Linked DNA regions of Homo sapiens. The main gene of each other region encodes a partner of the protein of the gene in region 2 in a complex. Each region holds a gene or a part of one and is shown on either strand. Other genes may lie near its edges. The genes, in order: AP1S3 and AAGAB.

Region 1 (12,933 bases), on a different chromosome or scaffold from region 2:
CTAGACCATCCTGGCTAACACGGTGAAACCCCATCTCTACTAAAAAAAAATACAAAAAATTAGCCGGGCGTGGTGGCGGGCGCCTGTAGTCCCAGCTACTCCTGAGGCTGAGATAGGAGAATGGCGTGAACCCGGGAGGCGGAGCTTGCAGTGAGCTGAGATCGCGCCACTGCACTCCAGCCTGGGTGACAGAGGGAGACTCCGTCTCAAAAAAAAAAGAAAAGAAAACAGTTCCTCATGGTCGACCTTCACCCAGTTCTCCTCCAGCACTTCTATTTCCTTAATAATTATTCCCTTTCTTTATTCTACTCACTGACCCCTTCCCTCTCACACACACATCCAGTCACTCATACACACACTGTTTTCTGAAGAGCTGAAGGCGGGGTCATCCCACCCTTCCAGGCTCAGCCCCAGGCCTGTCTCTCCCATCTCCTCCCCACTGAATTCCTGTGGCAATTATATAATTTAACAACATACTTCAGAGCTTAATTTTCCACTCTAGATTTGCTATGCATGTAAAAAATTTTGCCCAAAAACATGACAAGTATCTTGTAATCAAGAAACAGATCTTATATTTGTGGGGTTTTTTTTCCTATTAATAATAACCACTGCAGTTAAGAACACAAAGATTGCCGGCCATGGTGGCTCAGGCCTGTCATCCCAGCACTTTGGGAGGCCGAGGTGGGTGGATCACCTGAGGTCAGGAGTTTGAGACCAGCCTGGCCAACATGGGGAAACCCCATCTCTACTCAAAAGACAAAAATTAGTCAGGTGTGGTGGCGGGCACCTGTAACCCCAGCTACTTGGGAGGCTAAGGTGGGGGGATCACTTGAACCTGGGACCAGAGGTTGCAGTGAGCCGAGATTGTGCCACTGCACTCCAGCCTGGATGGCAGAGCAAGACTCTGTCTCAAAAAGAACACACAGATGAACAGGTGAGAAATACCCTGAAACAGTATTATTTTTCCATTCATCATTTTTCCCTGACAGAGTAATCAACTTTGAATATATCCACAACACCTGTCAGTTGTTTAATTTTTTCCTATAGTAAATATGCTGATTGAATTTCTCCTGGAGTCCTTTGAGAATCAGACTAGTCCTGTGTTGTGTTTCAAGTCATCCAAGGAGAAAAAGACTGGAAATAGGGGGCAGAAATTCCAGGAAATTTCAGTACGACTCTGAAGTTGAATAAAACATTAATAACTTGCGGCAGGTATGGTGGCTTATGCCTGTAATCCCAACAATTTGGGAGGCCAAGGCGGGCAGATCACTTGAGGTCAGGAGTTCGAGACCAGCCTGGCCAACATGGTGAAACCCCATCTCTACTAAAAATACAAAAATTAGCTGAGCATAGTGGTGTGCGCCCGTAATCCCAGCTAATTGAGAGGCTGAGGCATGAGAATCGCTTGAACCCGGGAGGCAGGGGTCGCAGTGAGCAGAGATTGCACCACTGCACTTCAGCTTGGGTGACAGAGAGAGACTCCGTCTCAGAAACAAAACAAAACAAAATTAATAACTTAGGACTCTATTCATATTTCATAGAGATGCTTTTTTGTTTTTGTTTTTTTAAGACAGGGTCTCACTCTGTCATCCAGGCTGGAGTTCAGGGGCACAATCTCGGCTCACTGCAACCTCTGCCTTCCAGATTCAAGCAATCTTTCCACCTCAGTCTCCCAAGTAGCTGGGAATACAGGCGAGCACCACCACGCCCAGCTAATTTTGAGATGCTTTTTTTGAACTTTGCTCAAGAGGCTATGCTTACTATGCTAAACTCAACACCCTGCATGGTAATGACCACTTAATGGTTATTAAGAACTTTCATTTTCTTCCTACTCAACACTCATTAAAAATCTATCCCCAGGGCCTTTTATACCTTGACAAAGATGACTTCAGTTACAAGCAAAATTTTGTAAGAGGCGGGCAATGGTATATCCATCATACCCTTTCAAAGTTTACCACTAACAAACTTCAAGCATTCATCTGAGAGACCAATCTGCCTTATTGTATATTCAAGTCTTGCCCTTCCCCCATAGTTTTTGCAAAGATGGTTGATGTAGACTAGATTATCGTGAGACGGAATGGACTTTGAAAGGCGGGACTCTCTTATGTAGTGGACTTAGAACTGAAGACATGACTTCTTAGTAATGAAACTGAAGGTAAGTACTTGTTTATACAACAAAATTAAAAAGTTCTATACAGACTTCTGAATCATACTTTAAAAAAAAATGTGATATTACTGTAACCCTTACCTTCCCCTACCTCCCCAATATCTGCAGTCCATAATTTTGTTTTGTTTTGAGATAGAGTCTCACTTTGTCGCCCAGGTTGGAGTGCAGTGGCACGATCTCAGTTCACTGCAACCTCCACCTCCTAGGTTCAAGCTATTCTCCTGCCTCAACCTCCGAAGTAACTGGGATTACAGGGGTTTGCCACCACACCCAGCTACATTTTTTTTTATTTTCAGTAGAAACGGGGCTTTACCATGTTGGCCTGGCTGGTCTCGAACTCCTGATCTCAAGTGATCTACCCACCTCACCCTCCCAAAGTGCTGAGATTATAGGCATGAGCCACTATGCCCGGCCGATTTTGTTTATTTCATCAGTTTAAATAAATTTCTCAGAGGAAAAAAAAAAATCTAAAGTATTTTCATTAGCTTTTCCCATTTCTCTTAGAAATAGCCCTGGCTAGGCTGGGCACTGTAATCCCATCACTTTGGGAGGCCAAGGCGGGCTGATCACCTGAGGTCAGGAGTTCAGGACCAGCCTGGCCAACATGGTGAAATCACGTCCTACTTAAAATACAAAAATTAGCTGGGTGTGGTAGCAGGTGCCTATAATCTCAGCTACTCAGGAGGCTGAGGCAGGAGAATTGCTTGAACCCAGGAGGTAGAGGTTGCAGTGAGCCAAGATCGTGTCATTGCACTCCAGCCTGGGGTACAAGAGCAAGACTTCATCTAAAAAAAAAAAAAAAAAAAAAAAAAAAAAAAAAAAGAAGAAGAAGAAAAGAAAAAGAAATAGCCCTGGCTAGCATTTATGAAATATGTTCCAGGTGCCAGGCCCTGTGCTGATTGAACCAAGCAGTCTTATTCCACGCTCAGGTGATCTCATGAAATGGGATGAACCAAGTATCTAAGATCAAAGCGCTCACACAGGGCCCTGGGGTCATTCCCCTCACCACATTCTCCTCTCTCTCTTTTTTTTTTTTTTTTTTTGAGACAGACTCTCACTCTGTTGCCCAGGCTGGAGTGCAGTGGCACAATCTCGGCTCACTGCAACCTCTGCCTCCCAGGCTCAAGCGATTCTCTTGCCTCAGCCTCCCGAGTAACCGGGGTTATAGGCGTGCACCACCATGCCCAGCTAATTTTTTGTCAAGGCCAACACTGCCCCCTACCCCATGTGCCACATCTGGGTCCCCACATGGCCCACCTGCAACTTCCCAGGAAATAAAACTGAGATGACTCAAGAATGCTTAATATCAAATTCTTCTCCTGTGTGATTGATCCAAAATATTTACAGAGTTGAGAGAACTCCTCACCAAGAATGTGAGCTCCGTGCAAGCAGGTGGCTTCTGGCTTGTTCAACACACTCTCTGAGGCCCAGACCCATGGCTGGTTTCTGTGGACACAGGGTCATTACATGGAGAAGCCCTGCATTCAGAAGGACCCAAAACTTGGTTTAATGCTCTGCTGTCACTATCTTGAAATTCCTGGTAAACTTTGAAAAAGGGATCCTACATTTTATTTTTATTTTATTTTTTTGAGACTGAGTCTCACTCTGTCACCCAGGCTGGAGTGCAGTGGCGCGATCTCGGCTCACTGCAACCTCCACCCTCCGGGTTCAAGCGATTCTCAGCCTCCCGACTAGCTGGGATTACAGGCGCCTGCCACTGCACCCAGCTAGTTTTTGTATTTTTAGTACAGATGGGGCTTCACCATCTTGGCCAAGCTGGTCTTGAACTCCTGACGTGGTGATCCACCAGCCTTGGCCTCCCAAAGTGCTGGGATTACAGGCATGAGCCACTGCACCCAGCCAGGACCCTGCATTTTCATTTTGCACTGGGCACTGCAAATTAGGTAGCCAGTCCTGCCTGTCATGGGGCAGGCATCCAAATTATTTGTCCAATATACCTATGATGAGTTAGTGGAAGCTGCCCTAGAAAATGGGTCAATAAGCCATGACTTACAGGCCAAATCTGGCCTTCTGCCTGTTGTTGTAAATAAAGTTTTATTAAAACACAGCTCCAGCCAGGCACAGTGGCTCATGTCTATAATCCCAACACTTTGGGAGACCAAGGCGGGAGGATCACCTGAGGTCAGGAGTTCAAGACTAGCCTGGCCAACGTGGCAAAACCCTATCTCTACTAAAAATACAAAAATTAGCTTGGGAGGCCAAGGCGGGGGAGATCACTTGAGGTCGGGAGTTCGAGACCAGTCTGACCAACATGGAGAAACCTTGTCTCTCAGGAGGCTGAGGCAGGAGAATCACTTGAACCCAGGAAGCAGAGGTTGTGATAAGCCAAGATCACACCATTGCACTCCAGCCTGGGCAACAAGAATGAAACTCCATCTCAAAAAAAAGTTAAAAATTAGCTGGGTAAGGTGGTGGGCACCTGTAATCCCAGCTACTTGGGAGACTGAGGCAGGAGTATCACTTGAACCCAGGAGGCAGAGGTTGCAGTGAGCTGAGATCACACCACTGTGCTCCAGCCTGGGCAACAGAGTGAGACTCCATCTCAAAAAAAAACAAAAAAAAAACAAAAAAACACAGCTCCATCCATTTGTGTCTTGTCCGTGGCACTTTCACTCTACAACAGAAGAGTTGAGGAATACTGAAAGACTGTAGGGTCCACAAAGCCTAAAATATTTACTATCTGGCCTTTTACGGAGAAAGTTCACTGTCCCCTGCTTTAGTAAATTGTCTCTCCAAATTTTCTATCCAAATAACTGTAACAGCAGGAAAGGCAGGTGGCCTCATGAGACCAGGAGGGTAGCCTAAGCTGCAAGCCATAAACAATATATGTCTTAGGGTTTGTATGTATGAATTTTGCATCCGGGAGCCAAATATATTAGTGTGTTAATACAAAAATATTTTCTCGGCTGGGCGCTGTGGATCACACCTATAATCCTAGCACTTTGGGAGGCCGAGGCAGGCAGATCACTTGAGGTCAGGAGTTCAAGACCAGCCTGGCCAACATAGTGAAACCCTATCTCTACCAAAAATACAAAAATTAGCCGGGCGTGTTGGCATGCACCTGTAGTCCCAGCTACTCAGGAGACTGAGGCAGGAGAATTGCTTGAACCTGGGAGGCAGAGGTTGCAGTGAGCCGAGATTACGCCACTGCACTCCAGCCTGGGTGACAGAGTGAGACTCTCTCTCAAAAAAAAAAAAAAAAAAATTATCATTCTGAACAATACTCCAGGGATGAGTCAAATTTATCCCTTGACAACCCCTGTCTACAAGGATGAGTACGCAGAAGGTATGGGCACCCCAGTTTGCAAACCATGCCTTCATTCCTCATCTTTGATATACCCAGTGTGGAAGGAAGTCTCCTGTAGCATTTCAGTGTCCACTGAGCTTCAACCCACACCAATCATTTCTTACCAGCCCAGAAAATCCTGTTAGAGAAGATCCAACAAGGACATTAAATACAGAATCTCTTGTGCACTTATTCTTAACTGACTGTACTAGGTCCATGCCCCATCGCACTGAAAGACTAAAGTTTCAGAAGCTACTGAGAGCCAGGAATTTCAGAGCCCAGAGATGCCTGTAGGAAAGTTTTTAGAAGAGGGATGTTGGCAGAGGCCAGTTTCCTCATGATTGTCGATAACATTCTATTTCTAACTTGAATGATTTTCAGTATCCCCTTTTCATTGTTAAGATTTTTAATTTACCTTATTGCTAGCAGCGATACAAGAAATACATTTTTTTTTCTTTTTAATAGAGACTGAGTCTCACTGGTCTCAAACTCCTGGGCTCAAGCAATCCTCCCTCCTCAGCCTCCCAAAGTGCTGGCATGAGCCTCCAACCCTGGCCCCTTTCTCTTTTGGAGATAGGATCTCACTCTGTCACCAAGGCTGGAGTGCAGTGGCACAATCATGGCTCACTGCAGCCTTGACTTCCTGGGCTCAGGTGATCCTCTCATCTCAGCCTCTCAAATAGCTGGGACTACATGGGTGCACTACCACGCCCAGCTAATACTTTCTGTATTTTTTCTAGAGATGGGGTTTCGCCATGTTGCCTGGGCTGGTCTCGAACTTCCAGACTCAAGCAATCCACACACCTTGGCCTCCCAAAGTGTTAAGATTACAGGCGTGAGCCACCGTGCCCGGTCAAGAAATACATTTCCTTAGTCAGGGTGCTGGCTGGATAGTTTCATATGCCACTGAGAGAATTTAGGAGCATTTGCCTCTGACATTTGTGTACATTCTTTCATGTCATAGATTATGGGGGAGCTTCAAATGGTTTAAAGGGAGTTTTCCTGGATACTTCAGGTTAAACAGAGAAAGTATCGGGGAAAACTAGGTATACCAGAAAGGGAGACTCTGAGAGAGAAAAAGACAGGCCCCAGGGAAGAAATGAACCACAGAACCACAGTGAAGTTTCAGGTCTCTGGGAGAAACACTGGCTATCGTAACAACAAAACAATATCAAAAGGACAATTCATGAAGACATCAAGAAGTACTTGTTCTGTTGGCCGGGCACGGTGGCTCATGCCTGTAATCCCAGCACTTTGGGAGGCTGAGGCGGGCAGATCACGAGGTCAGGAGATCAAGACCATCCTGGCTAACACGGTGAAACCCCATCTCCATTAAAAATACAAAAAAATTAGCTGGGCATGGTGGCGGGAGCCTGTAGTCCCAGCTACTCAGGAGGCTGAGGCAGGAGAATGGCGTGAACCCGGGAGGCAGCGCTTGCAGTGAGCAGAGATCGTGCCACTGCACTCCAGCCTGGGAGACAGAGTAAGACTCCGTCTCAAAAAAAAAAAAATCAAAAAAAGGACTTATTCTGGGGATTATTAAAGGAGTTTTCTCTCTGTGTGTGTGTGTGTGTGTGTGTGTGTGTGTGTGTGTGTGTGTGTGTGTTGGAAAGGGGAGTAATTTTATCATTATGTCTTAAAATGAAATAATTCACGGGACCCAAAAGGGCAGACATTGACAACACCGTTCAGCAAATACACAGTGTGCTGCTTCCTTACAGCTGTTGTTGGCAAAATGCCACACAAAAGTTATCAGCAGCTGACAATACTCACCACAAACAAACAAACAAACAAAACGAGTGATAGAAACTCGGTAGTAACAATCCTGGTGAGGAGTAAATACAAGTCTCACTGGTGTTTTTGGGAGACCTGTGGGAAGGGCCAGTGGAGGAGAGCCCTCTTGGGACAACTGAACACCACAAAGGGTCATTTCTCCCCTGATCCCAAAGCCCTCGATCTTACACTAACTGCTGGCCAGCAGCCTAGACCAAGTCTCCGAGGAGGAAAGCACTCATTAGTGTAATAGACCGCTTCACCCTCAAACTGGAACTTAAATTGCCAAAATCATTACATGCTTATTACAATTCATTCAAGCTTCAGAACATAAAATTGATACAGAAGGGGAAGGGGGCGTGGCAGGACCTACAGGTTCATAGTTCGGTTTTTCCACCCTCACCCTCAACAACTCCCTGAGATTAAAATGAACAAAGGAATTTTTTTTCTTTTTTCTTTTTTTTTTTTTTTTTTAGGAGAAGGGTGTACTCCTACTATTTCAAACTTAAATATCTTCTGAATAAGAAATGGCTTTCCAGTTCTGTTTGGTAAATTCTCTCAAGTCAGATTTTAAATCGTACACCCAAAAAAAATCCTTGATTTTTTTTTAGCATAAATCTATCCTACTTTACATAAATAACATACATTATGAGAACGGAATTTGCAACACAAAAAGACGGTTATTCATGTTTCCAAAGGGATCAACATTTGAGTTTCTTTCAATGGGTGGCTCTACTGTTTTGTTCACAATGTGGTTTTGTGTCACCTCAACTTTTCAGAAGCACATGGACTACATACATCAAAGTCCACTTGTGCTTTTATTAAAAGTACCCCCAAAGCATTTCAAATGTCACTGTATACATCCCCACAGCTATCTTGTTAAAGGCAAAATACATACATACATACATACATACATACATACATACATACATAAACAACATAATCCTCCTTCATTGCCAACCATTCAACAGTACATTCTGCCCCATAAGCCTTTTTAAACACACTGGGCTCAGCTCGTGGGATTCCTGAAGTGCAATAGCCCTAACACTGTTTTCCAAGGTAGAGATTTCTAAAAGGTGAGATGGAGTACACAGTTGCTTCAAACAGTGTGATCCAGATACAAACACAGTCCCAACATGCACCAGATATGAAATCTCTGTGCCAGAAACCAGGGTCACTGGCACCATGGAATCAAGAACCATTTTCTGTGTGTAAAGTACTAGGTGCCTAGATCTGCCAGTAAGCATCTACCAGTTTCCTAGCATAAAAGTCAGCAAAAGTCAGGAATGAAGCAGCAGGAAAGACAGGGAGTTACACAGTGAGCCTCAACAAAGGTCTCAGAGCAGCTGGGCACTAGCGAGGGCCGCCAATTCTTTCTTACAACTTGAAGGTAATAACAGAGGAGAGGTGATGGTTACTGAGCATTTACAATGGCAAAGCTGTTTGAAGCGCCTTCACACGCATTCACTTATGGTACCTGTTAAACTCCGGGACAGTGATTATGAAACTTTTTGGATGCCTTTACACTCTTTTTATTTATTTATTTATTTATTTATTTATTTATTTATTTATTTGAGATGGAGTTTTGTTCTTGTTGCCCAGGCTGGAGTGCAATGGCACGATCTTGGCTCACCACAACCTCCACCTCACGGGTTCAAGCGATTCTCCTGCCTCAGCCTCCCAAGTAGCTGGGATTATAGGCATGCGCCACCACACCCAGCTAATTTTGTATTTTTAGTAGAGACAGTGTTTCTCCATGTTGATCAGGCTGGTCTCAAATTCCTGACTTCAGGTGATCCGCCTGCCAATCCCAAAGACCTTTTTGTTTATGTGGGTTATATCCACTGATATTTATTGTATTTGAAATTAAAATGAAAAAATAGATATTAACATATTTTAAAATAATACGACTTGGGCAACATAGGTAGGCTTCATTTCTACAAAAAGTAAAAAATTCCACTGGGCCCAATTGTTCATGCCTATAATCTCAGCACTTTGGGAGGACAAGGTGGGAATATTACATGAGTTCAGGAGTTCAAGACCAGCCTAGGCAACAAAGTAAGACCTCATTTATACAAAAATCAAAAAATTACCTGGGCATGATGGCACACACCTGTGGTCCCAGCTACATGGAAGGCTGAGGTAGGAGGATGCCTTGAGTCCACTGGGTTGAGGCTGCAGTAAGCCATGTTCATGCTACTGCACTCTACTCTGGGTGATAGAACAAGCCTTGTCTCAAAATAAATAAATAAATAAATAGCTGGGCATGGTGGGACATGCCTACAGTCCCAGCTACTCAAGAAGCTGAGGTAGGAGGGTTGCTGGAGCCTAGGAGGTTGAGGCTGCTGTGAGCTGTGATCACACCACTGCACTCAGCTTGGGCGACACAGAGACCCTGTCTCAAAAATAAATAAATAAAAAGAAAAAACAATAGTAAACCTATTACACATTAAACATAAATAACATTTTTATGACCAATAACAATATTTTTCCAAAGCAAAAAAAAAATTAGTGAAAAGCATGGCACTGTTTTACAATTTTGCAAATCTCCTTAATGTCTGGGCTTATCAAAGACAGTTGGACTTTCCTATCTGCATCTGTGTTCAATCTGTTGTACTATCTCAGCTTATGTAGACACAAGAAAACTTCACTGTAGTCTTGTGAGAATGAGAATGAAATGGGAAAATTAATATCTTAGTATTATTATGAAAATAGTTTTGACCTTGCAGACCTCCAGTAAAAGTCTTGGGGACTGCTGGGGGTACCCAGGTCACACTTTCAGAACCTCTGCCTTATGAGTTAGGAGATATTATCTCCATTTTTCAAATGGGCAAACTGAGACAGAGAGGTCAAGGAATTGTCCAAGGCCATACTGCTAGAATAGCTCAGAGTAGCTAAAATGCAATGAGCATAACAGATTTAACCTCAATTGTTTGTTGCAAGGATTGAATGAGATCGTGAATATAAAGAGCAGGACATCCTGCTTGTCTTATCACAAATGCCCAATAACATTAATGTTTCCCCGCCAGGTGCGGTGGCTCATGCCTGTAATGCCAGCACTTTGGGAGGCCGATGCAGGTGGATCACGAGGTCAGGAGTTTGAGACCAGCCTGGCCAACATGGCAAAACCCCGTCTCTACTAAAAATACAAAAATTAGCTAGGCGTGGTGGCGGGCGCCTGTAATCCCAGCTACTTAGGAGGCTGAGGCAGGAGAATTGCTTGAACTCGGGAGATGGAGGTTGCAGTGAGCCAAGATCATGCCACTGCACTTCAGCCTGGGTGACAGAGCAAGATTCCGTCTCGAAGAAAAAAAAATAATAATAATGTTTCCCATTTAGCAAAAACTGGTAGAAAAGCTGGAGAAACTTCCCACATTTCTGATCAACTCATCACACATATGACACCAGCAAGAAAAAATAAAACTCCACCACAGGTATTGTCCAGAGGAGCAGCTTTTCCTTATAGACCAAACCTTGGCCCATTCCTCAGCACAAAAGCAGCCTTTGATGACTCAGAAACGCAGGGCCTTATTCCAGCCTCTGTTAGGCAAATTACACTGGTGGACTGGGCATCTGTCACCTTGTTCCTTGGGAAACTTGAGCAAGCCAAGAAACCTGCTCCATTATTTACAGCATTGTTTTTGCATCACGCTGTATTTACAAGGAACCCTCAACAGACAAAAATGATGCCGCTAGTGTGTGCAGCCAAACCTTTAACAGAAACCAGCAACTGCGGTCTTGCTGGCCAGGTGCTCAGCACTCCCCGGCTCTCTTTGTTGATCAACTTTCTTAGCCCACGTGGCCCACCCACTCCTGCCTCCGGTGGGCCCACAGGGTGCAGGTCACTTCCCTTCTGCGGATTTGGGAAGTGGTAACACACTTGGGGAAGTGGGACTAGTGACGTTCAGACCACCACACTCTTAAAAGGCTGCCCCTAAACAGCAGGCAAGAGCAAGAGGAGCCTGAGCTATCGCTTCCACCCAAGTGCAGGTCACCAGATCTCTCATCAGCAGGGCTGCGGCCGGCCTCAGCTTCCAACCTGACCCCCTATCCCCTGCCCTTACACACCCCAGTCCATTCTCCAACCACAGCCAAACTGCACACCATGCCGGGTGCAGTGGCTCACCCCTGTAATCCCTACACTTTGGGAGGCCGAGGCAGGCGGATCACCTGAGGTCAGGAGTTCGAGACCAGCCTGGCCAACATGGTGAAACCCCGTCTCTACTAAAAATACAAAAATTAGCTGGGTGTGGTGGCACACGCCTGTAATCCCCGTTACTCGGGAGGCTGAGGCAGGAGAATCGCTTGAACCCGGGAGGCAGAGCCGAGACCACACCACTGCACTTCAGCCTGGGCGACAGAGCGAGATCAGTCTCAAAAAAACAAAAGTGCACAACGGGTAAGGTCAGTTTTCTTGCTAAAACGTCCCCGAGGTTTCCCCTACTCAGTTGGAACCAAAACCAAACTCCTTATTTTGGCCTATAAAAACCCGCCTCACCTGGCAGAAGCCCACCTCTCCTGCCACAAACAAGGCCTTCTCCCCTCCGCTTTGCTCTCTCTAATCCACCTGTAGCGCCCCTCCAGGACCTCCAGCAGCTAGAATGTCATGTCCTTGAAGAGGCTTTGCCAAATCAAAAGTTGCCACTCCACCCGGTTGTATTTGAGACTTTACAGCGCTTCTTACTTTAGAAGTTCTCTTCATTTTACTTGTATATTGGACGTGTCCCTCCCTCCGCATCCCCCTCCTGGAAGGTAAGCTTCCTGGAGAACAGGGGCTCCTCCTGGTCCCCCGCGACATCCCCAGCGCCCAGCACCGAGCCCGGCACAGACTAAGCACTCGGCTAAGGCGGATCGAATGAATGAATGGAGCCGCGGCGCCGCGGCGCCGCGTTGCCGCAGGAATCCCGGGCAAGCGATCCTGGCGCGTCCGCACCGTCTGGGGCAGCGGGGCCACAGGGACGCACGGTTCGGGTGGCCAGGCGGGACTCGGCCCGCACCCCCACCCGGCCGCGCGCCCGGCCCGGACGCCCCAGGTGCCTCCCCGGAGCGCGAGCGCCCCCACCGCCTACCCGGGCCGGCGGTTCCCCCGCACTCACCATCGTGGCTGGGCCGCCGCCTCCCCCGCCTTGCGAGCAAGGAGCGCTGGAGAAGCGAGGGCGAGAGGCGAGCGCTGGAGCCGGTGCGGCTGACAGGTGAGGCGCCCGGCTTAGACCATGGCTGCTTCCCACAATGCCCTGGCACTGAAAGTGTGCAGACTCCTCCCAGCGCGGCTGCCTCCTCCCTGCACGCTCCTCCCCGCTGCCTCCTCCCCGCGCCCTCCTCCCCGCTCCCCCCGCTCCTCGCCCTCCTGCTCTCCTTCTTTCTTCCTTTCCCCTTTCTCCTCCCTTCTCCTCCTCCTCCTCCTCTTCCCTCCTTTCTGCCTCTCCTCTGTACCCCCTCCCCGCCCCCGCCTCGGCTGCAGCTGTTCCCGCCCCGAGCCGGCCGCACCTGGAGCGAATGCACCTGCGCGCGCGGGCGTCTGTACCCCGACAGCCCGCAGCTCGGCGCGGGTGGTCAGGCGAGAGCGCGTGGCCCGCTAGGAACTCCCTGCGCGGGGAACTCCCTGCGCGGAGAACACCGGGGACTTTTCGCGATTCTGCCGCGCGAGTGTGTCCTGTATTCCTTCCGCAAACGTTTATCAAACCTG
Region 2 (8,768 bases):
TATATATGTAGTTAGAACTTTGGTAACAAATAAGTAGCCTTTGTTTCATCATCATAGCCATTTGAACAGTTTAAAATGTAAATGACAAATTTCACTAAGTGTATTTTTCCTTTTCAGATAGGAACCAAGGCTTTAGCCTTCTCAACTCATTGACTGGAACAAACCATAGCATTGGGTCAGCAGATCCCTGTCACCCAGAGGTAAAGGTTTTTCTTGGATCTTTTTTCCCTCTTTGGCTTTAATTTCTCCTTGTCATTATGAATCTTGACACATTCACCATTGTTTTCCTTTCCATTTAAAAGGTGACAGAGAATGTTAAAAATAGATGAAAGGAAGGTCTAAAACAGCCCTTGCTAAAGCAGTAAGCCCTTTCAAGATGTTTACAGCTTTGGTTTTATTTTTACTAGGGTGCTTTCTAAAATATGCTAGGATTTCCCTGAGGCATTAATTTGCCTTCAGATCTTTAAATAGAAAATAAAATTCATGGTGCTTTTTTAGTACTTCCTGTGTAAAAGACCTTGGCAAATCTGAGGCAAGGTCCCTGTCCTCAATGAGCTTGTAGTCCAGTTTCAACCCTGCATCCTTAAGAACTTTGTTCCAGGTTTACCTTGGTCAGCAGCTGGAGCCAAGAGCAAATTATACAGTGCCACATTGTCTTTCCAGGGATCTTTTTCAACAGCCTCTGAGCTATTTGTGTTACGATTGTGTTACATTTTCACATTTTGAATATAACATGGATCTTAAATGAGACAAACAAAAAACATGTTTTAGTAGTCTAAAGCAAAATCAACGCTTTCTAGTTCTTCCTTGGGGGAAAGTACTTCTGGGTTAGTTAAGTTTTAGCCTTTTATTTTTTTAATGTGATCTTGCTCTTCTTTCTTTGCCTCCAGTTCCTATTACTCTTTTCTCAAGCCAACCAAGGACTGAAAGTGTGAGCTTTTTTGGATTTAGTTCTGAAATAGACTACGATTAAATTGTTGCTTATGTGTATTTTCCTCAACAGCAACCCCATTTGCCAGCAGCAGATAGTACTGAATCCCTCTCTGATCATCGGGGTGGTGCATCTAACACAACAGATGCCCAGGTTGATAGCATTGTGGGTAAGTTCCTCCTTTGGCTGCCAAGAGAGAGCTTTGTGCAACTTGGAATAGGTATCTGGGCAGAAATTGTTGAGGGGGAAATTGACTTTAAACACAGAGAAGGGAAAAAAATTGGTAGTATACCACACATGAATGTGAGCCTTGCCAGTGGCTATCAGAAAAAGGAAGAAGAATAAATATATAACAAATATGTGGGTACCATTTTCTCTTTAATTCTCCTAGCAGGATCTTGATTCAGATAATCTTAGCCAAGGCAGACCGAACCAGGTGGCGAAACAGCTAGCTCTGTATCACGTAGTTTTTTCATAATATTTAACAGAAGTCAGAATCGATGGTGACAAGAATAATACAACTTTATATTTATAAGCCCTTCCATATGCTTTTAAAGTTATTTTATATCCCCTTTCTCATTTGGTAATGAAGTTTTGCAGAGAAGTTTAATAACTTGTCCAAGGACATCTAGCAAGAAGGGCCTGGAGCTGAAGCTGGAATCCAGTATGCTGTCCAAAAGCCAGAAAACCAAGGAGCTTACTTGACAATAACTATAAATCTTCTTTCGCTGGGGAACTACTGATATTCCTACTTTATCTTTATGCTACAGACGGCTCATGTGCAGTAATAAATTTTTAAAACTCTTTTTTCTTATGAGATAATTCATGTAGAAAACTCAAGTGATTGGTTATAGAAACATATGAAGAAGAAGAAAAAATTATGTATAATTTTTTTTCTTTCCAGTTTATTCATCCTTAGCCTCTCAATTGAATCCTTCCCATTGGCTTTTAAACCTGCCAGAGTCTCTGCCATTAAAACAAACTAGTAATCACACTGAAGTGGGTGGGGACTTGAAGCACTAACCTAAGTAACTTTAGAAAACAGTAATTGGACTAGATACCGTAAGGCTAAAAACAAAAATAACTGAACACAGATACTGAACTCTACTTAGTAAATTTGTTTCTTATAGGAGCATGGCTCAGCAATTCTGAAATTTTATATATAGATATTTTATACACCACACATATACTGACATATAGAAAATAAAAAATATAGATAGTGAGAGTTAGGTTTCTCACTGCCAGAGGAAAAAGGTTACAAATAAGGAAAAGGGAAGGCCAAGATGTACCCTTTGGTACTGGATTGGAATCTAATGTATCAGTATGAACTCATGGCTTTAAAAATATACTTACAGTTAAGAAAATAAATACAGATGTGTGTGTATATGCGTGTATTAGTATACACACATATATTTCCTAGTTCTGTCCACTGAGAGGCCTAGAAGCAACAATACCACCATAGCAGTGGACACACTTAGCACTCAGATCTTGCTTTCTTTTTGTGTGTGTGTGTTGTTGTGTTTTTGTTTTTGTTTTTGTTTGAGATGGAGTTTCGCTCTTGTTGCCCAGGGTGGAGTGCAGTGGCACGATCTCGGCTCACCGCAATCTCGCTTCCTGGGTTCAAGCGATTCTCCTGCCTCAGCCTCCTGAGTGGCTGGGATTACAGGCATGTGCCACCACGCCCAGCTAATTTTGTTTTGTGTTGTTTTTTAGTAGAGACGGGGTTTCTGCGTGTTGGTCAGGCTGGTCTCAAACTCCCGACCTCAGGTGATCCACCTGCCTCGACCTCCCAAAGTGCTTGGATTACAGGCGTGAGCCACTGCGCCTGGCCAGATCTTGCTTTCTAAATACCATTCTCCAATAAAAGGAACTAGGGCTCCTTGGAGAAGTGGTTGATTCCAGGACTTGGGCAAGAAAAATACAGGATGACCCTGGAGCATCTCTTGGTACCAGAAATTAAGAAAATTCTCAAAAAAGAATGGGGACATGTTGAAAGGGCATAGGGACCAACCTGAAAGAGCTTCCAGTGGCTAAATCTGGAACAATTTGACCAGCAAAGTAGATTAATATAGTATTGGGTTATAACCCATAGAGTAAGCTAAGTATCCATGAGTTCATACTAATATAAATAAATAATTGAATAAACAAATGAGAAAGAAAGGACAGCATCTCCTTCCAGAAGAATCCCAAGTAATAAATATAGAAGGAATGAGGAAAATAGAAAGCCATCATTAGGCACAAAACACAGTAATAGTTCTTGGTAGCATAGGTGAAAGTTTGAGGAGAAGTAGTATATCTGCATAGTCTAAAAGTATCTCTCTCAAGATGTTTATTTATTACAAAGGGGAAAATAGTAACTTTACACTGGAGAAACTCATCAGATGCCAGCCACTTTAATTATGTAATGAAGGTTAACATCACTGGTAATAAGACATATTGACATAATAGCCCTCCTGATAGGATGCAGTGAGAAGGTAATCTCACCAAAAATGCATAACTGCAATCTAATAATAAGAAAACAATCTGACAAACCCAATTAAGGGACATTATACAAAATAACTGACATACAAGTGTTAAAGTCGTGAAAGACTGAGGAACTGTCACAAATTGGAGAAGACTAAGGAGATTTGACAACTAAATTCCATGTAGGATCTTGGAACAGAAAAAGGATATTAGTGGAAAAACCGATGAAGTCTATGGCATGGTTAATGGCATTATACCAATATTAACTTCTTGATTTTTATAATTGTACCATGGTCATAAACGATGTTAACACTAGGGGAAAGTGGGTGAAGAGCATATAGAAACTCTGTGTACTATTTTTGCAAGTTTTTTTTTAAGAGTAAATTAAGAAAAAGATTTAAGGCAAAACCAAATCAACAAAAACCAAACATTTCCACATCTTCCTCCTTATCTCTTTACTAAACTTGTTTCCATTCCTCACCTCCCATTTGCTCCTCACCTCACTCATGTCTGTCTTTTGCCCCTGGTATGCCACTACAACAGCTCTGTGCAAAGGCCAGCAATGACCTCCATGCCGCTAAATCGGGTAGATATTTTCCAGTCCTCATCTTGACCTCGTGGCAGCATTCAGTGTTACAGATCAATTCCTCTTTGAAACATTTTCTTCCCATGCCTCACCCAACACGGTGTCGCCTGGTTTTCTTCCTACTTCTCTGATTATTCCTTCTCTTTCTTTGGTAGATACCCTTCTTTACCCAGCCTTTAAATATTGTCATTCTTCATTGCTGCATTTAAACTCTTCCAAATCTATATTTAGGCATGGAGTGATTCTGTCTACATTAACAGCTCAATTACTATGTATACACAGATAAATCACAAACTTTTATCTTCAGCCCTATATACCAACTTCCTACATGACATGTCCATTGAACGAAAGCAAATATATTAACCAAGATGCGTTTTTAACACCAAATTGTCTATATGGCATTGTGATAGATGCAAATAATTATAAGTCATCATCCTATCTTCATGGAGCTTAGTCTAAAAATATAGAGATAGGACCTATAATGTAATGGTTAAGGTCATAGTCATTGGAGTCCTGTACAGCTGGGTTCAAATCATGGCTTTATCGCTAGTAATGGCCTTACCTTGAATAAATTAACCTCTGTTGGCATTAGTTTCCTCTTCTGTAAAATAACGGTGATAAATCTTTCCTCATAGGGCTGTTGCAAAGATGCAGTGGAACCATGTAAGTTAAAGCATTCAGTGGTGCAGATCCAAAGCAAATTCTCTCTTATGGTAGTAGTACTTATTAAAGTAGTGGTGGAGAAATGTTAGAATACAAGGTAATATATGCAAGTGCTAAGACAGTTCTGGAAACAATAAGTGTAGAAAGAATTCTAAGGAAGGAGACCTGTGAAAGTGGGATGGGCAGGGAAGACATTCTAAACATAGTGGGCCTGGAGTGGAGAAGGAGTTAAAATTCTGATTAAAAACAAACTTTAATAAAGAAGCAGTGTGCCAAGGTAGAAACAGTAAAAGATTTGTAGTAAGAAAATATGAATTTAAATCAGCTCTACCTCTGAATAGCTGTAATTTTAGATGAGTTCATTTTTAGATACAGGTTTTTTTTTCATATCATTTCTGTTATTCTCAGATAATGTTATCTGTTCTAATCACCTTTTATAGTGGTTGTCGGTAATAGATGTGAAAATATTTGTTGTACAGTAAAATATGGCATAAACTTTAGTCATTATTGGTGAATCAGTGTACCTTAGTGGAGTGAGTATGCTTTCCGAGTTGGAAACACCTGCGTCTGAATCAACTTACTAGCTGTCACCTCGGCAAGTCACTTCAACTCTGAGATGTGGTTTTCTCATCTTTAAAATGGAAATAGTACTCCTTACCTCATGACGATGTTGTGAGGATAAAATAGTTACTCTTCATTTGTGAGGGCCCACTAGCAGCCAAGCAGGGTGAGCCATGAGCTGTAAAGCTGGTATACACTGGGCCTTCGATCATTGGTGACTTCATCAAGGTTAGCATTTGCCTTAGGATTCTCTGAGTGTAGCACATATGCAAATAACGTGACAGATAATGTGACAAATCCCTATTTCAGATCCCATGTTAGATCTGGATATTCAAGAATTAGCCAGTCTTACCACTGGAGGAGGAGATGTGGAGAATTTTGAAAGACTCTTTTCAAAGTTAAAGGAAATGAAAGGTAATCAGATCCATTGTGTCTAATATGTTCCCATGTTGATGCTTGTCTGTTTTACGTAGTAGCATTTTATTTTGTTAACTGCTGGATTGGATTCCTTGTTCTGGTCTCAGCTGTCTTGAGAAACTTAGCTACTCCTGGGACTTGGTAAAAAAAAAAAATTCCCTGGGGAAAATTTTTCCATCTTCGTTCTCTTTCTTTTTACTTTTCCTGCTTTTGCCTTGTTTCTTTCAATGTGTTACATAAGGTGGAAACTGTAAGATCCCTACCAATTTACTCACATCATTCCCATCTGGAAAATTTGGAAGACTTAAAAACTTCCTAATACATGTAATGACTACATCATAAACATGTCTTTGAAACCCGTCTCCCATCTTCTAGTGTTATTCATATACTCCAGGTTATCCTGTGCTATTAGACAAATTTCTTAAGATATATTTTCCCCCTAGACAAGGCTGCGACGCTTCCTCATGAGCAAAGAAAAGTGCATGCAGAAAAGGTGAGACAATCAGCCAGGTATTTATTGAATACCTATAAAAGGTCCAGTGCTATTATTATAATTATATATCACACTTGTGTATTTCTGAAGGGTCTTAGTGTGAGCTTTTCATTGAATATTAACTTCTAACTAATTAAATATTTATACAGTAATAGTATAGTTGCTGCAGTCAAACCAAGATTTTTCACCTGGATGGTGAGTGATGTGGAACCTTTATTGAGACTCAGGATGTTTGCCTTTCTAACTATTGGGCCAGAAAACTCTTAGTTGTTTTGTTTTATTATTACCAACACAACACATGCTATTGGCAGGAAACTTGTATGGTTGATGGTGTTCCCTGATATGTGTCATAATTTATCCTGTTCCCTTTTGGACATTTAGGTCATGTGCATTTTTTGCTTCTATAAATAACAAAGCTGTGCATGTCTTTACACATCATCTTTGTATACAACTCTAAATATATCCTTGGTATAAATTTCTAGATGTGGCGATCATGGGTCAAATGGTATTCAAGGGTTCTGATATGTGTTGCCAGAGGACTGGAGGGCAAAGTGCAGAATTTTAGGTCTCAGTCAGTTTAAGGTATGACATATGAAACAAGCTGAAATGTAGCTGTTGCCTAAAATTTGTTGCATGCTTCTCTCCACAGGTGGCCAAAGCATTCTGGATGGCAATCGGGGGAGACAGAGATGAAATTGAAGGCCTTTCATCTGATGAAGAGCACTGAATTATTCATACTAGGGTTTGACCAACAAAGATGCTAGCTGTCTCTGAGATACCTCTCTACTCAGCCCAGTCATATTTTGCCAAAATTGCCCTTATCATGTTGGCTGCCTGACTTGTTTATAGGGTCCCCTTAATTTTAGTTTTTAGTAGGAGGTTAAGGAGAAATCTTTTTTTTCCTCAGTATATTGTAAGAGAGTGAGGAATACAGTGATAGTAATGAGTGAGGATTTCTTAAATATACTTTTTTTTTGTTCTAGGAATGAGGGTAGGATAAATCTCAGAGGTCTGTGTGATTTACTCAAGTTGAAGACAACCTCCAGGCCATTCCTGGTCAACCTTTTAAGTAGCATTTCCAGCATTCACACTTGATACTGCACATCAGGAGTTGTGTCACCTTTCCTGGGTGATTTGGGTTTTCTCCATTCAAGGAGCTTGTAGCTCTGAGCTATGATGCTTTTATTGGGAGGAAAGGAGGCAGCTGCAGAATTGATGTGAGCTATGTGGGGCCGAAGTCTCAGCCCGCAGCTAAGTCTCTACCTAAGAAAATGCCTCTGGGCATTCTTTTGAAGTATAGTGTCTGAGCTCATGCTAGAAAGAATCAAAAAGCCAGTGTGGATTTTTAGACTGTAATAAATGAGGCAAAGGATTTCTATTCCAGTGGGAAGAAAACCTCTCTACTGAGTTGTGGGGGATATGTTGTATGTTAGAGAGAACCTTAAGGAGTCCTTGTATGGGCCATGGAGACAGTATGTGATAACATACCGTGATTTTCATGAAGAAATTCTTCTGTCTTAGAGTTCTCCCCTGCTGCTTGAGATGCCAGAGCTGTGTTGTTGCACACCTGCAAAACAAGGCACATTTCCCCCTTTCTCTTTAAAGCCAAAGAGAGATCACTGCCAAAGTGGGAGCACTAAGGGGTGGGTGGGGAAGTGAAATGTTAGGCGATGAATTCCTGAGCACCTTGTTTTTCTTCCAAGGTTCGTAGCTCCTCTCTGCCCTTCCAAGCCTGTAACCTCGGAGGACTATCTTTTGTTCTTTATCCTTTGTCTTGTTTGAGTGGGTCAGCCCCAGAGGAACTGATAAGCAAATGGCAAGTTTTTAAAGGAAGAGTGGAAAGTACTGCAAATAAAAATCCTTATTTGTTTTTGTAGACTTTGTAATGCATATCATTAGCCCTCACTGTGATCATTACTGCTGTGGCTCTGAACTGGCACATAGTACAGTGGATGGAAGGTGCCCGCACACCAGCTGAGAACTGGTTCTGGCCTAGGTGGGCTCTAGAACCATTTACACAGCATGAAAGAAACAGGTTGGGTTAGGAGCAGAAAGAAATAAGGCTCACACCCCTCCAGACACTACCTTATAAGCACTGCAGAACCTGAAACAGATGGCAGAAGGAATGGAATGCTACAGGGGCCAGCAGGAGTGACCACAGGGAGGGGACAGCTCAGTGACTGGAGCATTCAGGAAGAGGCTTTCCAGGGAACACTGGACATTGCTTAGTGACCTTTTGTTCCTTTTTTTTTTTTTTTCTTTTACTGTTCTGAAAGACTTTGAGTCTGTGGTTCACCACCAGCCCATCAGTGTTTCTTTGAGGTGATTGCATTAGGGAAGTTGGCTCTGGGATTGCAAAAAAAAAAAAAAGGTGGAACATGTTTTCCTTAAAAGATGGAAGGTTTTAGAAAATATACTAGGCCATCTGGTTAGAAAAAACAGACCAGACTAGAAAAAGCTGTGAATTTGATTTTGTAGATTAAACAAAGCCAGATGATTAAAATGTGATTTATTTATAAACTGTGCTAATGTCTATTATTATGATTTTGTGGTTTTTTATTAGGGGGTATGAGTGAGGGAAGCCCTATATCCTTCATTGGATTAGACATATATAGTGAATAGTGGAAGAGTCTGTCAAGCTCACTATTTTAGAA

The links.
Region 1: the proteins of AAGAB (region 2) and AP1S3 are in contact, whole or in part, in a crystal structure (PDB 9DDT), measured with the Homo sapiens proteins. Residues at the interface, in NP_078942.3 of Homo sapiens: Asn51, Lys52, Tyr53, Tyr54, Glu108, Val109, Met110, Ile111, Gln128, Ile132, Gly135, Phe136, Glu137, Asp151, Phe153, Pro154, Glu155, Arg161, Gln164, Ala165, Asn167, Ala168, Asn169, Val170, Met176; in NP_001034658.1 of Homo sapiens: Arg10, Gln11, Lys13, Arg15, Gln37, Leu40, Ser41, Arg61, Tyr62, Ala63, Ser64, His85, Val88, Asp92, Phe95, Val98, Glu100, Leu101, Asp102, Ile104, Phe105, Asn106.

Annotation. Positions count from the first base shown.
Region 1 is NC_000002.12:223,825,105-223,838,037, forward strand, and holds the start of AP1S3 (AP-1 complex subunit sigma-3), read right to left. Parts: upstream 12,479-12,933; 5' UTR 12,347-12,478; coding exon 12,344-12,346; intron 1-12,343. UniProt on the Homo sapiens protein: Subunit of clathrin-associated adaptor protein complex 1 that plays a role in protein sorting in the late-Golgi/trans-Golgi network (TGN) and/or endosomes.
Region 2 is NC_000015.10:67,200,894-67,209,661, reverse strand, and holds part of AAGAB (alpha- and gamma-adaptin-binding protein p34), read left to right. Parts: intron 1-117; coding exon 118-200; intron 201-1,003; coding exon 1,004-1,100; intron 1,101-5,513; coding exon 5,514-5,618; intron 5,619-6,064; coding exon 6,065-6,114; intron 6,115-6,763; coding exon 6,764-6,841; 3' UTR 6,842-8,768. UniProt on the Homo sapiens protein: May be involved in endocytic recycling of growth factor receptors such as EGFR.